Regions from separate parts of the Homo sapiens genome. Here region 1 is linked to region 2. Evidence: fine-mapped expression QTL. A gene starts in region 2. The other region holds a variant in brackets. All regions are shown on one strand. Distances are between the middles of the regions.

Region 1 (8,718 bases), 25 kb before region 2:
CTCATCAAATCCAAGTCGTCTCCCTGCCGGATAAAACTAGATGTCTGAGGTATAAATATTTGAAAGGGGCCTTCTAATTACAATCTGTGTCAGGAATAGCAATTAGAGGCCCCGGGGCCGGAATCAAACGGCATTTGACTTTCCTGTGCTTTGGAGCTGGCTTCTCCTGGGGCTGCACCCCGACCCTACCCCAAGGAGGGGAGTGGGGAGAGGCTGGCAGGGAGAGGCAGGAGGATTAGGTAGAAGAGAAAGAGATCCAGGCTAGGGGTCCAGTCACCTTCCCCTGTGACCTTGAATCAGCCACGTAACCTTGTGAGATTTGGATTTTTCTTTTCTCCCTTTTTTTTTTTTTTTTGAGACAGGGTCTCTCGCTCTGTTGCCCAGGCTGGAGATGCAATCACAGCTCACTGCAGCCTCACATTCAACATCCTGGGCTCAAATGATCCTCCCATCTCAGCCTCCTGGTAGCTAGGACCACAGGTGCATACCACAAAACCCGGCTTTTTTTTTGCTTTTTTTTTTTTCTTACGCAGAGTCTCACTTTGTTGCCCGGGCCTGGAGTGCAGTGGTGCGATCTCGGCTCACTGCAAGCTCCGCCTCCCGGGTTCACACCATTCTCCTGCCTCAGCCTCCCGAGTAGCTGGGACTACAGGCACCCGCCACCATGCCCGGCTACTTTTTTGTATTTTTAGTAGAGATGGGGTTTCACTGTTAGCCAGGATGGTCTCGATCTCCTGACCTTGTGATCCTCCCGCCTCAGCCTCCCAAAGTGCTGGGATTACAGGCGTGAGCCACCGAGTCCGGCCGCTTTTTTTTTTTGAGGCCGAGTCTTGCTCTGTCGCCCAGGCTAAAGTGCAGTGGCACAATTTCGGCTCACCGCAAGCTCCGCCTCCCAGGTTCAAGCGATTCTCCTGCCGCAGCCTCCCAAGTAACTGGGATTACAGACGCCCGCCACCACACCCAGCTAATTTTTATATTTTTAGTAGAGATGGTGTTCCACCATGTTGGCCAGGGTGCTCTCAAACTCCTGACCTCGTGATCCGCCCACCTTGGCGCCCCCAAAGTGCTGAGATTACAGGAGTGAGCTGCCATACACGGCCTTGTTGCTTTTTTTTTTTTTAAAGATACAATTCACATTGGCTGGGTGCAGTGACTCACACCTATAATCCCAGCACTTTGGGAGGCTGAGGTGGGCAGATGACCTGAGGTCAGGAGCTCGAGACCAGCCTGGCCAACATGGTAAAACCCCGTCTCTACTAAAAATACAAAAATTAGCCAGGCGTGGTGGCGGGCACCTGTAATCCCAGCTACTCGGGAGGCTGAGGCAGGAGAATCACCTGAACTCGGGAGGCAGAGGTTGCAGTGAGCCAAGATTGAGCCACTGCACTCCAGCCTGGGCAACAGAGCGAGACTCCATCTCAAAAAAACAAAAAACATAACTTACATATCCTACAGTTCACCCATTTAGAGTGTACAATTCAGTGGTTTCTCCTGTGTCCACAAGGTTGTGCGACCATCACCCCTAATTCCTGAACATTTTCGTCACCTCCAAAAGAAACCTCATACCCAATTAGCTGTCACTCCCCATCTCTCCAAATCCCCAGCTCCTGGTAAACACAAATCCACTTCCTGCCTCTGTGGATGGGCCTGTCCTGGACATTTCATAGAAATGGGATCACACACTTTGTGGCCTTCTGTGTCTGGTGTTTCTCACTGAGCGTGATGTCCTCAAGCTGCGTCCATTCTGGGGCCTGTGTTTTTTGTTGTTGTTGTTGTTTGTTTGTTTGTTTTTTTGAGACGGAGCTTGCTCTGTCACCAGGCTGGAGTGCAATGGCACGATCTCAGCTCACTGCAACCCCCGCCTCCCGAGTTCAAGTGATTCTCCTGCCTCAGCCTCCCGAGTAACTGGGACTACAGGCATGTGCCACCACGCCCAGCTGATTTTTGTATTTTTAGTGGAGACAGGGTTTCACCATGTTGGCCAGGATGGTCTCGATCTCTTGACCTCATGATCCACCCGCCTCGGCCTTCCAAAGTGCTGGGATTACAGGCGTGAGCCACCGCACCTGGCCAGGCCTGTGTTTTTTAATTTTTAAAATTCTTCTAGAGGGCTGGGTGTGGTGGCTCACACCTGTAATCCCGCCACTTGCAGAGGCTGAGTCGGGTGGATCACCTGAGGTCAGGAGTTCGAGACCATCCTGCCCAACATGGTGAAACCCCGTCTCTACTAAAAATACAAAAATTAGCCAGGCTTGGTGGCAGGCACATTGTAATCCCACCTACTCAGGAGGCAGAGATAGGAGAATCGCTTGAACCTGAGAGGCAGAGGTTGCAGTGAGCCGAGATCGTGCCACTGCACTCCAGCGTGGGCAATAGAGTGAGACTCCATCTTGGAAAAAAAAAAATCTTTTTTTCTAGAATTGGGATCTTGCAATGTTGCCCAGGCTGGTCTTGAATTCCTGGCCTCAAGTGATCCTCCTGCCTCGGTCTCCCAAAGCTTTGGGATTACAGGTGAGAGCCACTGCACCCAGCCATCTTTATTTTTTTTTTTTGAGACAGAGTCTCACTCTGTTGCCTAGGCTAGAGTGCAGTGGCACAATCTTGGCCCACTGCAACTTCCGCCTCCTGGGTTCAAGCGATTCTCCTGCCTTAGCCTCCCAAGTAGCTGGGACTACAGGTGTGTGCCACTGCACTTAGCTAATTTTTTATTTTTAGTAGAGACAGGATTTCACCACATTGGCCAGGCTGGTCTTGAACTCCTGACCTCCGGTGATATGCCAGCCTTGGCCTCCCAAAGTGCTGGGATGACAGGCGTGAGCCACTGCGCCTGGCCAGCTCTGCCTTTTTTTTTTTTGAGATGGAGTTTCACTCTTGTTGCCCAGGCTGGAGTGCAGTGGCATGACCTTGGCTCACTGCAACCTCCCGCTTCCTGTTTCAAGCGATTCTCCTGCCTCAGTCTCTGGAGTAGCTGGGATTACAGGTGCATGCCACCATGCCTGGCTAAGTTTTGTACTTTTAGTAGAGACGGGGTTTCACCATGTTGGCCAGG[C/A]TGGTGTTGAACTCCTGACCTTGTGATCCGCCCGCCTTGGCCTCCCAAAGTGCTGGGATTACAGGCATGAGCCACTGTGCCTAGCCAGCTCTGTCTTTTTTTTTTTTTTTTTTTTGAGACAGAGTTTCGCTCTGTCGTCCAAGCTGGAGTGCAGTGGCGCAATCTTGGCTTCATTGTGTTAGCCAGGATGGTCTCGATCTCCTGATCTCGTGATCCGCCCGCCTCGGCCTCCCAAAGTGCTGGGATTACAGGCGTGAGCCACTGCACCTGGCCAGCTCTGCCTTTCTTAACTCACGGTCTGATGGCAGAGGCATGGCCTTGTCCACAGAAGCCCCCAGTCTGATGGAAGAGTTGCGGCTCTGACTTCAGGAGCTTCCATTTGATGGGAGAGATATGGCCCTACCTTGAGGGGTTCCCACTCTGAGGAAGGAGACGTGAACCTATCTTCAGTCTGATGGGGGAGGCAGGTTCAACCTTCAACGGTCCCCTGTCTAATGCAGGAGACATAGTCTTGACTTCCAGGGTCCCAGAGTAATGGAGGAGACATAGGCCTGCCTTCAAGAGTCCCCAGTCTGATGAGGGAGGCATAGTCCAAACTTCAAGCGTCCCCAGTCTGATGGGGGAGGTATGGTGTAAATTTCAAGGGCCCAGTCCAACACAGGAGGCATGGCCCTAACTAACTTACAAGGTCCCAGTCTGCTGGAGGAGAAGCGAGCCTTCCTTCTAGGGGCCCCTACCTGATGGGGGAGGCATGATCCAGCCCTTCCAGGGCTCCAGTCTGACACGCAGGCACAGCCCAGCTCTTGGGGTTGCAGTGGGGTGGGTGACCAAAGGCGTAGCCTCGGAGCCTGGAGCTTCATACCCAGGCCCTGTCCCTCCCTCACCCTGGAGGTCGAGGAGTCTCCCTTACCTGTAAATGGGGCAGCAACAGAGCGTGTGCCCGGGGGGTGTTTGTGGACTGAGTGGGTGGTGTCACCCCATTCCCAGATAAGGAAACAGGCTCAGGGAGCCCCAAGTTCACACTGGAACTGGCAAAAGCTGGGGAAATGGCATGGCCCCTCTTCTCCTGTAAGCCCAGGCTGGGGCGGCAGTGGGCTCCAGCAGAAGGGGCCCCCATCGCCCCTCCTCCCCATCCCTCTGATGTGCTCCAGCAGCCAGGCAGCCCCGGAGGAGTTGATGGAGATCTCAGATGAAGGCTGACAGCTCCCGAAGACAGGATGACAGACGCGGGCTGGTGGGGAACGGGTACTGTCGGCAGGGATAGGGGAAGGGCAGGCTTCAGAGGGTGAGGGTAGGGGGCCCTGAGAGGTGGGGCAGGGCAGGGAGGGGTCCCCCGCTGGTCAGGAGGGACAGAGCCCGATGCATGGCTGTGCCTGCCCCTCTACTCCCTCAGTCCTGGGAACCCCCAGGAGAGAACTGGGGGCTGAGAGCAGAATTGCCCCCAGGACACAGGGTGAGAGAACAAAGCTTCTCAGGGGAAAAAAAAAAGAAATAAAAATAAAATTCCAGTGGTGTATGAAAGAGTGGGGTGTGAGAGGGGAGGAGGTGAAACCTGGGGCTCCCTGAGCCTGTTTCCTCATTGGGGAATGGGGTGATGCCCCCTCAACCCATTTGCGAGCACCCACGATGTGCCAGCTGGTTTTGGGGTGCTGGGGTGCACCAATTTTTTTGAGATGGAGTCTCACTCTGTTGTCCAAGCTGGATGGAGTGCAATGGCATAATCTTGGCTCACTGCAACCTCTGCCTCCCGGGTTCAAGTTATTCTCCTGCCTCGGCCTCTGGAGTAGCTGGGATTACAGGCACCTGCCCCATGCCCGGCTAATTTTTGTATTTTTAGTAGAGACAGAGTTTCACCATGTTGGGCAGGCTGGTCTCAAACTCCTGACCTCAGGTGATACACCTACCTCAGCCTCTGAAAGTGCTGGGATTACAGGTGTGAACCGCTGCGCCCGGCCCGAATAAACTTCTACTGTTTATAATTTACCCAGTCTGTGGTGTTCTGTGAAAGCAGCAGCAAATGGACAAAGACACAAGCTGCAGACAAGGTCTGTGTAGGTAAGAAACTGAGAGTGTTTTCTGGCCAACAGCCATGAGGGACTGAATTCTGTCAACAACCACAAAGGTTTGGCAGCAGGTCCTTCCCCAGTTGAGCCTTCAGATGACACCCCAGCCTGGGCCTGTGTCTTTTTTTTTTTTTTTTCTTTGAGACGGGAGTCTCGCTCTGTCCCCCTGGCTGGAGTGCAGTGGTGCAATCTTGGCTCACTGCAACCTCTGCCTCCTGGGTTCAAGTGATTCTCCTGTCTCAGCCTCCCAAGTAGCTGGAATTACAGGCATGTACCACCATGCCCAACTAATTTTTGTACTTTTTTGTAGTGACAGGGTTTTGCCATGTTGGCCAGGCTGGTCTTGAACTCATGACCTCAAGTGATCCGCCCGCCTCGGCCTGTGAAAGTGGTGGGATTACAGCCATGAGCCACTGCGCCCAGCCTGGCCTCTGTCTTGATTGCATTCTTGCTAAACCTTAAAGCGGGAGACCCAATGAAACCACACCCAGCTCTATGTTGTTTTTAAGTTGTTCAGTTTTGGTATAATTTGTTATGCAGCACCAGAAAACAAACAGAGGGAGAGATGGGCAATAAACACGTTCCCAAGGCATCCCCTCTGCATCTCCTTAGAACACACTCACCTGCTTTATTTTCACCACCTTCGGTATACATTATTTATATGTTATTGTAAAAATATATAATACATAAAAGTTTTTTGGGGGCCGGGTGCGGTAGCTCACGCCTGTAATCCCAGCAGTTTGGGAGCTGAGGCGGGCGAATCACTTGAGGTCAGGAGTTCGAGACCAGCCTGGCAACATGGCAAAACCCCATCTCTACTAAAAATACAAAAATTAAGCCAGGCAGGGTGGCGCGTGCCTGTCATCCCAGCTACTCTGGAGGCTGAGGCAGGAGAATCGCTTGAACCCGGGAGGCGGAGGTTGCAGTGAGCCGAGATCCTGCCACTGCACTCCAGCGGGGGTGATAGAGTGAGATGCTGTCTCAAAAAAAAAAAAAATTAAAATTAAAATAAGAACGGGTGTTGGAAGTGGGAGTTCAACTTTGTTTCTGCCAAATGCTCAGGGAACATTTGATAAACACAGGTTCCTTCCTTCCCTCTGCCAACTCCTTCTGCTGCCCCCGCCGAGGAGGGGAACTTCCCAGCCAGAGCTTTCTACTCATAAAGCCAGTGAGTCCCATCCTTGTTGAGTATGTAGAGCGCAGCCCCTTTGAAGGCAAATTGTAGCATCTTTTTTTTTAATTAATTATTTTTTGAGATGGAATCTCACTCTGTTGCCCAGGCTGGAGTGCAGTGGCATGATCTCAGCTCACTGCAACCTCCACCTTCCAGGTTCAAGTGATCCTCCTGCCTCAGCCTACCAATTAGCTGGGATTACAGGTGCCCGCCACCACATCTGACTAATTTTTTTATTTTTAGTGGGGGTGGTGGGAGTCTCACCATGTTGGCCAGGCTGGTCTTGAACTCCTGACCTCAGGTGATCTGCCCGCCGTGGCCTCCCAAAGTGCTGGGATTACATGCGTGAGCCACCGTGCCCCACCTTTCTTTAAAAAAAGACAAATTGAGAAACGGTCTGGCCATGTTGCCCAGTCTGGACTCGACCTCCTGTCTTCAACCAACCCTCCTGCCTCAGCCCCCCAAAGTCCTGGGATTACAGGAACATGCCACAGTTCCTGTCCTGGGCCTAGCTCCCCACCCCCCTCCCCCTTTTTCAGGCAGGATCTTGGTCTCTCACCAAGGCTGGAGTGCAGTGGTACAGTTACACCTCACTGCAGCCTCAATCTCCCGGGCTCAAGTGATCCTCCCACCTCAGCCTCCCAAGTAGCTGGGATTCCAGGCCTGAGCCACCACACCCGGCTGGAATTCCATTATTTATGCCAGAGTTCAGCCTTCACCTACTGGGGACATTGGGTTCGTTCCCCATAATGTTGCTGCTAAACACAGTGTCACGACAAACCTCCTCGTGGGTGTTTCCTTATGAATGTGGGCAAATACCTCTTAGAACAGACAGCCAGAAATGGAACTGCCTACTCAAAGAAGGTTCATATTGTTCACTTTAAAAGATTCCAGGCTGGTGCAGTGTCTCACGCCTGTAATCCCTGCACTTTGGGAGGCTGAGGCAGTCAGATCACCTGAGGTCAGGAGTTCAAGACCAGCCTGGCCAAGATGGTGAGACCCGTCTCTACTAAAAACACAAAAATTAGCTGGGCGTGGTGGCAGGCACCTGTAATCCCAGCTGCTGGGGAGGCTGAGGCAGAGAATTGCTTGAACCTGGGAGGTGGAGGTTGCAGTGAGCCAAGATCACACCACTGCACTCTAGCCTGGGCAACAGAGGGAGACTCTGTCTCAAACAAACAAACAAAAAGATTGTACAGGCAGGGCACAATGGCTCAGGCCTGTAATCTTAGCACTTTGGGAGGCTGAGGCAGGCAGATCACCTGAGGTCAGGAGTTCAAGACCAGCCTGGCCAACATGGTGAAACCCTGTCTCTACTAAAAATACAAAAATTAAGCCAGGCGTGGTGGCGGGCGCCTGTAATCCCAGCTACTCTGGAGGCTGAGGCAGGAGAATCGCTTGAACCCGGGAGGCGGAGGTTGCAGTGAGCCAAGATCGCGCCATCGCACTCCAGCCTGGGGGACAAGAGCGAGACGTCGTCTCCAAAAAAAAAAAAAAAAAAAAAAGGTAAAGAAAGAAAAAAAAAAAGAAGAGAAAACAAAAAGAGCCCAGATGCACACTCAGGCGACAACTAAATATAAATATCTGGGCTCATGCCTGTTACAGTGGCTTATGCCTGTGACCCCAGCACTTTGTGAGGCTGAGGCAGGAGGATCACTTGAGCCCATGAGTTCAAGATCAGCCTGGGCAACATGATGAAACCCAGTCTCTACTAAATATACAAAAAGTTAGCCAGGAATGGTGGCATCCACCTGAGGTCTCAGCGACTCGCGAGGCTGAGGTGGGAGGATCACCTGAGCTCGGAAGTTCAAGGCTGCAGTGAGTCAAGAATACGCTACCGCACTCCAGCCTGGGCAACAGAGTGAGATCCTGTCTCAAGACACAAACAAACCTCTGTGGAATGACCCTCGAATTGTGCTAACAGAGGAGGTCCTGGGACCTCCTCATCAGACTCTGGGAGAGAGAAGGGGCCCAGGCGGTTGGCAGGTTTCCTTTTATTGGTTCTAGACAGTTTGTGGAAGGAAGAGATGAGGCCATCTAGAGGCCGGCAGGCTCGCCCAGTGCCCCAAACACTGCCACCCTGAAGTAGTGTTGGAAGCTGCTCCAGGGATGTTGCAGCCCTAAGCACAGTGACAGGTGGGGGCAGGAGCAGCAGGGGTCCCCGAGGTGTTGAGAGGCTGGTGAGGGCACAGAGAAGGGACCTCCTGGGGCTGAGGCCCCTGGTGGCCCTATGTGTTGGAGCACGCTGGCGCTTGTCTGTCCGGCCTCCAGTCACGCCAAGGCCTCCTGCCCTGACCACCAGCAATGCTGGCCTCAATGTGGCTGAAGCTGGACGTGTGACTTTGACCCCGTGAGGGGGTCCTGGGAGGGCTCAGTTGCTGCCGTTGCTGTCGTCACTGTCCAGGTATGCACCCAGTTGGCTCAGGGAGGAC
Region 2 (8,885 bases):
CGAACTCCTGACCTCAACTGATCCACTTGCCTTGGCCTCCCAAAGTGCTGATTATAGCTGTGAGCCACTGCGCCCAGCCCAAAATGTTTTTTTAATCAAAGAAAAAAAGCTTATGGCAAAAAAGTATTCAAAGAGTACTTAAGCATAGGAAGAGAAAATTTTAAGTTATCTTCAGTCTTTCCTTAAATTCTCAAGGTAACAAATAAAAGTCAAATTGCAATTTTTATTGGCTGTGTAATATTCCATTGCACGCTACTTTTTTTTTTCTTTTTGAGACAGAGTTTCATTTCGTTGCTCAGGCTGGAGTGCAATGGCGCAATGTTGGCTCACTGCAACCTCTCCCTCTCGGGTTCAAGCGATTCTCCTGCTTTGGTCTCCCAAGTACCTGAGATTACAGGCATGAGCCACCACGCCTGGCTCACTTTTGTATTTTTAGTAGAGACGGGGTTTCACCATGTTGGCCAGGCTGGTCTCAAACTCCTGACCTCAGGGGCTCTCTTTCCTGCCTTGGCCTCCCAACCTGCTGGAATTACAGGCATGAGCCACTGTGCCTGGCTTTTTTTTTTTTTTTTTTTAGTTGGAGTCTTGCTCTGTCACCCAGACTGGAGTATAGCGGTGCAATCTTCGCTCACTGCAACCTCTGCCTCCCAGCTTCAAGTGATTCTCCTGCCTTAGCCTCTCGAGTAACTGGGATTATAGTCCGCCACCATGCCCAGTAATTTTTGTATTTTTAGTAGACATGGCATTTCGCCATGTTGGCTAGGGTGGTCTTGAACTTCTGACCTCAGGTGATCTGCCCGCCTTGGCCGCCCAAAGTGCTGGGAGTACAGGTGTGAGCCATGCCCAGCCTGCATGCTAATTTGTTCTTCTCATCCCTTATTATTATCTATCTAGGTTGCTTCTGTCTTTTTGCCTTTATTTAGAATGCTGCCATGAACATCTCCCCCAAACTGTTGTCTGTTTCTTGGGGATAAACTGAAATGAGATTCCCTGGATGGAGAGGATTGGAGTTAAGGAACCCCAGGGCCCGCCCTGATCTGAGGTGTGCTGGGGGAGAGGGACCGGCCTGGCCGGCCGTCTCACCTACCTTGAAGGTGATCTCTGCCAGGCAGCGCGTGCACTTGATGTAAAAGCGGAAGATGGGCAGGCCCAGGTAGACCTCGTTCTGCACCGTCTCCTTCCGAGCATTGAATTTCTTCCCCTTGTAGATGTATTCTCCGCACGTCTTACACCTGCGGGGCAGCATGTAGGGATGTGAGCTGTCTTGGGACGCTGGCTCCCACTGGCAGGCTGTCCCTGCGGCATCCTGCAAGATCACTGCTTGCTTGCCTCCAGCAACGGGGAGCTCCCTCCTTCAAGAGGCAGGCTGCCCCACCCTGTGTCCAAATTTCCTCTACCTGAGAACTTCGTGTTCTCATTCATATCTTCCTGGGGCTCAGTCCAAGGGTCGCCTGCTTGGGAAGCCCCCTGAGTAGGTGAGGCCTGCCTGTCATGCACTCCCAGAAGCAATCTTTGTGCTTACGGGGCACCCCACCCTCCAGGAGGAAAGATGCCACACAGAAAAATGCTGCCCCACCCCCCTCTTCCCCTCCTACTCCGGGCTCTGCTCCCCAGCCCAGCACGCCCGCCTCCTGTCTGATCCTGCAAACACCCCCAGCTCAGTCCCAGCTCAAGGCCTCTGCTCCTACAGTCTCATGGCCGGCGACACCCTTCATCCTCAGACCTCAGCGCCACCAGTATTTTGCCTGATGTCACCGTACCCCAGCTACCTATAGCCCTCCCTCCTGCGCCACTGCCCCAGGGGCTCTCTCCTGCCTGACTTCGGGGGCCCGTGCACCTGCCTGACTACCACTATTCTCCACTTCCCATTAGACTGTGGGCTCCATGAGGCCAGGGACTTTGTTCCTGGCGCTCGGCACAGACCCTGGCACACAGCAGGTGCCCAATAAATGAGTGTTGAATGAATAAATGAATGAATGAGGGGGAGGAGTAGACAGGCCAACAACACATGGGCATGAACCGAATTTCACTGACCCAGATGTCTCTTTCCTCGTTAGGTGCGTGATTTCAGATATGCTAGAGCATGAAAAGGTATGGGGTTGAGAGTTGGTGAAATACAGTAATTCTGAAGTGCTACAAAAGGCAAGATCTGGGCACCGTGAGGGGATGATGGAGGCCTCCCGGAGGGGTGAGATTGGAGCCATGACCTATGGCAGACAAGAGGAGCCTGCCATGTGTAAGTAGAAGGAGAAGGCCAGGTGCGGCAGCTCACGCCTGCAATCCCAGCACTTTGGGAGGCCAAGGAGGGCAGATCACCTGAGGTCAGGAGTTCGAGACCAGCTTGGCCAACATGGTAAAACACCAACTCTACTGAAAATACAAAAATTAGCCGGGCGTGGTGGTGCACGCCTGTAATCCCAGCTACTTGGGAGGCTGAGGCAGGAGAATCGCTTGAAGCCAGGAGGTGGAGGTTGCAGTGAGCTGAGATCACGCCACTGCACTCCAGCCTGGGCAACACGGCAAGACTCTGTCTCAACAAAAAAAAAAAAAGAAAGAAAGAAAGTAGAGGGAGAGAGTTCCAAGCAGGGGCAGCAGTGTGTGCAAAGGCCCTGGGGTAGGAACGAGCTTGGCTGTTGGAGGAGCTGAAATATATCTATGGGGCTGCATCTCTGTGGCGTCCTATCCTCTCTGCACACACGTTTACTAACCACCATGATCTCAAGGCAGGCACTGGCTGGAGGGCTCTAAAAGATCCAAAGCTTAATCCCAAGTGGTGAGGCGAAGGAGGGTTGGAATGGTCAATGTCTGAGCCAGGACAATGTCTAAGACCAGTGATCTGGTCTTAACACCGGACGAGTCACCTCTGTGGATGCCAGGCACTGCGTCCTTCAGCCATGACTGGTGTGTGGGGTCACGCAGGGGGTGCTCACCTCATGTTGAAGGGGGCCATCAGCCGCACCACGTACTGCCGGTCTTTGGGGAGCTTGAGTTTGGGGATCTTTGATGGGTCAAAGTCCGGCGGGTAGTATTTCTGCAGGGGAGGAAGGAAACGTTGGGGGAGTTATTTTCAGAAGCAGGGGCAGGACATGGCAGAGGGAAGGGGCTCTGGGGAGCTGTGTCGGGGGTCCCCAAGCCCACCCCAGGTTCCGCGACAGGCAGGGAGGACTCGCAGGACTCAGTACAGTCAGAGGGAGGCCAGGCACAAGCTTCCTGACTCTCTCCTAGTGGAGTTATACAGGACGCATTTAATTCTCCTAAATACCAGTCATGACAATACACATGAAATGCTGTCTACACGGGAAGCTCTAAAAAGCCAGGGTTTGTTTTTGTTTTTGTTCTGAGACGGAGTTTTGCTCTTGTTGCCCAGGCTGGAGTCCAGTGGCGCGATCTTGGCTCACTGCAACCTCCGCCTCCTGGGTTCAAGCGATTCTCCTGCCTCAGCCTCTACAGTAGCTGGGATTACAGGCGCCCACCACCACTCCCCGCTAATTTTTGTATTTTTAGTAGAGATGGGGTTTCACCATGTTGGCCAGGCTAGTCTCGAACTCCTGACCTCAGGTGATCCACCTGCCTTGGCCTCCCAAAGAGCTGGTATTACACACGTGAGCCATCATGCCCTGCCCTTTGTAGAGGTTAAGCTTTGCTTAGCACTTCTGTTGTTCAGGCAGGAGACCGAGTTCCCCGAGGAGTCCCAACTCCCCAGCAATTCTGTAGAGGGTAAACCAGGACTCTGTTAGCTCAGCCTCCCAATCACGATACTACATCCGTTTCCTACAGAGTCATCTCCCTGGATCTGAATCCTGAGGAGCTGAAACCTGCAGGGCTCAGTTTACTCCTCTGTGAAATGCGCACACTGTCCTCTGTCTCCAAGAGTCTTTGCACGCATTCCTTGAGGCAAGGGGGATAAAGTGCTCTTTGCAGTGTCTGGCACCCAGTAGGTGCTCCAAACACAAAGTGCTTTATTTTCCAGTGGTGCAGTGGAGGTATCTGTCATAATCCATACTCACACTCCCTTTGTATCCCAGGGCTCCTGTTTCCCAGGAGTTCCTACAGCAAGCCTGAGACTGCTCTCCTAGAAAGACCTGCGTGGGGCCGGGCGCGGTGGCTCACGCCTGTAATTCCAGCACTTTGGGAGTATGAGGTGGGTGGAATGCCTGAGATCAAGAGTTCAAAACCACCCTGGGCAACATGGTGAAATCTCATCTCTACTAAAATACAAAAAAAATTAACCAGGCATGGTGGCGGGCGCCTGCAGTCCCAGCTACTCAGGAGGCTGAGGCAGGAGAATCGCTTGAACCCAGGAGGCAGAAGCTGCAGTGAGCCAAGAACGTGCCACTGCACTCCAGCCTGGGAAGCAAGCGCAAAACTCCATCTCAAAAAACCAAAAAACAGAAGTGTGCCAACAGTATAGTTTATACTGAACCTCTGCTTTTCTTCTGGGAGTCTGGAATCTTGGCCACTGTCAGGCAGAGGTTATCTGCATGACCAGACCCCAGTAAAATCTTGGCCACTGTAAGGCAGAGGTTATCTGCATGACCAGACCCCAGTAAAAAAAACAAAACACACACACACACACACACACACACACACACACACACACACACACACACACACACACACACACACACACACACACACACACACACACACACACACACACACACACACACACACACGCGCCACCCCACCCCACCCCACCCAAAGTACACGATTGGTTACAGTCCCCAAGTGGGGCGGGGCTTCTCAGAGCCACGCCCCTCAAGAAGAGGGCAAAACACGGCCGCCAGCATTTAAGGAAGCCCCGCCCCCAGAAAAAAAACCCTATCTGGTGGTGATTGGGTAAAAGCCCAAGCCACGCCCCGCAGGTGACTAACTACACCCCAGCCCAGAAGGGAGACTTAGCGAAGGCCCACCCCCCCGACGGAAGGCGATGGGGAGGAGTCTAGGGAGGAGTCTGGGAAGCCCCATCTCGCGGAAGGCCGCTGGGAAAGAAGGGTTCCAAAGAAGAGATCTCAGGAAGCTCCTCCCTCTCCCGGAGTTCCGGGATGTCCTGCTCCGATTGAAAAGCCCCAGTCGCCCAACACTTACGTTTAATACTTTTCGCTCCGACATCTTTGCCTTCTGATCACCTCGCAAGCACCTGAGAAATGGTTAGGCTGGGTAATTATCGAGCTTTTCCGACGGAAGCCTTACTTCCGCAAACGTCACTTCCTTCGGCCGCTATTATTGGCTGCAGCATACACAGCAGACCTCTTTCATTGGTTCCAATCCCCGCCTATCAAGCTGGAAGTCCCAGCGTCTTCCCTCCGGAGTTGCAACCTGAGTAGCGCGAAATAAGGATTCCGGGAGCCATGTGGAATTGGAGAATTTTGTATAGTGCGCTGCGCCCCCTAGAAGCGGGCAGCGGCTCGTTAAAATTTTGTAACGTGACCTCTTGTTCTTCATTCTTTTATTCAGCAAATATGTATTATGCGCCTGCCTTGTATTCTGGGCTCTGGGAATCCACACATCGTTCCTGGGCCCGCAACTCTCACATGGGGTTGGGGCCACACATAGGGTGACTTAAGAGGACCCTGGACGACTCTTGAGTCACAGACATTGACTTAAAGATCAGGCTCCAAACCAACTTCCTAAACATACGCAGTGTCTCCCAAATGTCCCTCCATTGCCCACCTGTGCCTTCCCCTTAACGAGGACTTCCCATCCCATTCCTTCCCCAGCCTCCTTCCCCAGCCTCCTCCCCACCTTTCATGGACGTTTCCTCTGTGTCAGATTGTTCCAGGAAAGGGGTCCGGATCCAGACCCCAGGAGAGGGTTCTTGGATCTCGTGCAAGAAGGAATTCAGGGCGAGTCCACAGTGCAAAGCAAAAACAAGTTTATTTAGAAAGTAGATGAATAAAAGAATGGCTACTTCACAGACAAAGCAGCCCCAAGGGCTGGTGGTTGCCCATGTTTATGGTGATTTATTGATGATATGCTAAACAAGGGGTGGATTATTCATACCTCCCTTTTTTAGACCATATAGGGTAACTTCTTGATGTTGCTGTGGCAATTGTTTGTTTATTTATTTATCTTTTGAGGAGTCTTGCTCTGTTGCCCAGGCTGACGGGCAGTGGTGCGATCTTGGCTCACTGCAACCTCTGCCTCCAGTGGTGCGATCTTGGCTCACTGCAACCTCCACCTCAGGATTCAAGTGATTCTCCTGTCTCAACCTCCCGAGTAGCTGGGATTACAGGCACGCACCACCACACCTGCCTAATTTTTGTAGTTTTAGTAGAGATGGGGTTTCACCATTTTGGCCAGGCAGGTCTCGAACTCCTGACCTCAGGTGATCTGCTCGCCTCTGCCTCCCAAAGTGCTGGGATTACAGGCATGAGCCACTGCACCTGGCCAAAAATCAACTCCATCTTAAAATTAACAAGGCACATTCGCTGCCAGTCACGAGCCAGGGTCATAAGATGTTTACAATTGAGAAAACGTCTTACAAATGCCTAGGAGGACACACTACTACAACAATGGAAGGTCCAGATGTCCTGATATTGCATAGCAATGTATGCTTTTAAGATCGTTATAGTCGCCAGGCGCGGTGGCTCATGCCTGTAATCCCAGCACTTTGGGAGGCCAAGGAGGGTGGATCACCTGAGGTCAGGAGTTCGAGACCAGCCTGGTCACCATGGCCACCATGGTGGAACCCCATCTCTACTAAAAATACAAAAATTAGCCGGGCGTGGTGGCGGGAACCTGTAATCCCAGCTACTTGGGAGGCTGAGGCAGGAGAATTGCATGAACCCAGGAGGCTGAGGTTGCAGTGAACTGAGATCGAGATTGTGCCGCTGCCCTGTGGCCTGGGCGACAGAGTGAGACTCCATCTCAAAAAAAAAAAAAAAGAGAAAAAAAAGAAAAAGATACCGGGCATGGTGGCTTACGCCTGTAATCCCAGCACTTTGGGAGGCCGACGTGGGCGAATCACCTGAGGTCAGGAGTTCAAGACCAATCAGACCAACACGGAGAAACCCCGTCTCTACTAAAAATGCAAAATTAGCCAGGTGCGGTGGTGCAGGTCGAGAGTTCAAGACCAACCAGACCAACATGAAGAAATCTTGTCTCTACTAAAAATACAAAATTAGCCGGGCATGGTGGTGCATGCCTGTAATCCCAGCTGCTTGGGAGGCTGAGGCAGGAGAATCACTTGAACCTGGGAGGCAGAGGTTGCGGTGAGTCGATATGGCGCCATTGCACTCCAGCCTGGGTGACAAGAGTGAAACTCCATCTCAAAAAAAAAAAAAGAAAATATGGTTATAGTCATGGTGTAATGTACTTAGGCACTAAAATGGCAAGGATATGTATGTATACTTTTTGAGACAGGGTCTCGCTCTGTCACCTAGGCTGGAGTGCAGTAACGCAATCATGGCTCTCTGTGGCCTCCACTTCCCGGCTCAGGCGATCCCCCACCTCAGCCTTCCGAGTTAGCTGGAACTATAGGTACCACCACACCTGGCTAATATTTGGCAGTTTTTGTAGAGACAGGGTTTCGCCATGTTGCCCAAGCTGGTCTGGAAATCCTGGGCTGAAGTGATCTGCCGGCCTCGGCCTACCAAAGTGTTACAATTACAGGTGTGAGCCACTGCACCCAGCCAGGATAACTTTCTTTAAGTCGACAAAGTACTACGTTTTGTCACGCGGTCAGCCCACCTACACGTGGACATAGCTTTCACACAGATAAGACCCCTATATAAGAAAAAACCGGTTGTACATGGTGGCTCACACCTGTAATCCCAACACTTTGGGAGGCCGAGGTGGGAGGATCACTTGAGCTCAGGAGTTCAAGGCCAGCCTGGCCAACACGGTAAAACCTCGTCTCTACTAAAAATATAAAAATTAGCTGGGCGCAGTGGTACATGCCTGAATCCCAACTACTCAGGAGACTGAAGCAGGAGAATCGCTTGAACCTGGCAGGTGGAGGTTGCAGTGAGCCAAGATCGTGCCAAGATCGTGCCATTGTACCTGGGTGACAGAGCAAGACTCCATCTCAAAAATAAATCAATAAATAAAATAAAAATAAAAACCTTAAAACAAAGACAAGGCGTTCCTCCTCTTGTTTTCTGAGGACGCCCTACTTTGTAACTGAGTAGCCTTCCTTTTTTTTTTTTTTTTTTTTTTTTTTTGAGGAGTTTTGCTCTTGTTGCCCGGGCTGGAGTGCAATGGTACAATCTCGGCTCACCGCAACCTCCGTCTCCCAGGTTCAAGCTATTCTCCTACCTCAGCCTCCCAAGTAGCTGGGATTAAAAGCATGTGCCACCACGTCCGGCTAATTTTGTATTTTTAGTAGAGACGGGGTTTCTCCATGTTGGTCAGGCTGGTCTTGAACTCCTGAGGTGTTCAAGAGGTGATCCACCCACCTCAGCCTCCCAAAGTGCTGGGATTACAGGTGTGAGCCACCACACCCAGCTAGGGACCCCTTTTCCTGGCACCAGGAAGACAATAATATGGGACAAGGAATGGTGTTAAATAAAGTTTACAGGAAGCCATGGGTTTGGACTGAGCTCCTGCACTAGGCCCAAAAGACTAAACCAAAATGAAGTCCCTCATGCGGAAGTTTTACACCAAGCTGAAACTAAGTTGTTTTTCTGGTTTTCCAAGAAATCGAGAACTGGAAGGAAGTGGGGAGAGAGAGAGAGAGAGGGAGAGAGAGAAAGAGAGGGAATAGTCAAATCCATGAACAGAGGCAGGCAGATCACCTGAGCTCGGGAGTTCAAGACCAGCCTGGCCAACATGGCGAAACCCCGTTTCCACTAAAATACAAAAAATTAGCGGGGTGCGGTGGTGGGTGCCTGTAATCCCAGCTACTTGGGAGGCTGACTCACGAGAATTGCTTGAACCTGGGA

Evidence for each region.
Region 1: its variant is fine-mapped to the expression of YJU2 in whole blood (TOPMed, PIP above 0.99).

Annotation. Positions count from the first base shown.
Region 1 is chr19:4,268,636-4,277,353 of GRCh38, reverse strand. YJU2 (YJU2 splicing factor homolog) reads right to left here. Exons shown (of 8, transcript NM_018074.6): 8 at 8,266-8,718. The coding sequence ends at 8,658. Among named protein-coding and RNA genes, the nearest start is that of SHD, 6.3 kb to the left of the region's middle. The variant C/A (reference allele first, on the strand shown) is at 3,050.
Region 2 is chr19:4,243,374-4,252,258 of GRCh38, reverse strand. YJU2 (YJU2 splicing factor homolog) reads right to left here and starts at 5,179. Exons shown (of 8, transcript NM_018074.6): 1 at 5,089-5,179; 2 at 2,931-3,031; 3 at 1,088-1,232. The coding sequence starts at 5,112. RefSeq lists enhancers at 5,020-5,109, 5,450-5,589, 5,348-6,119.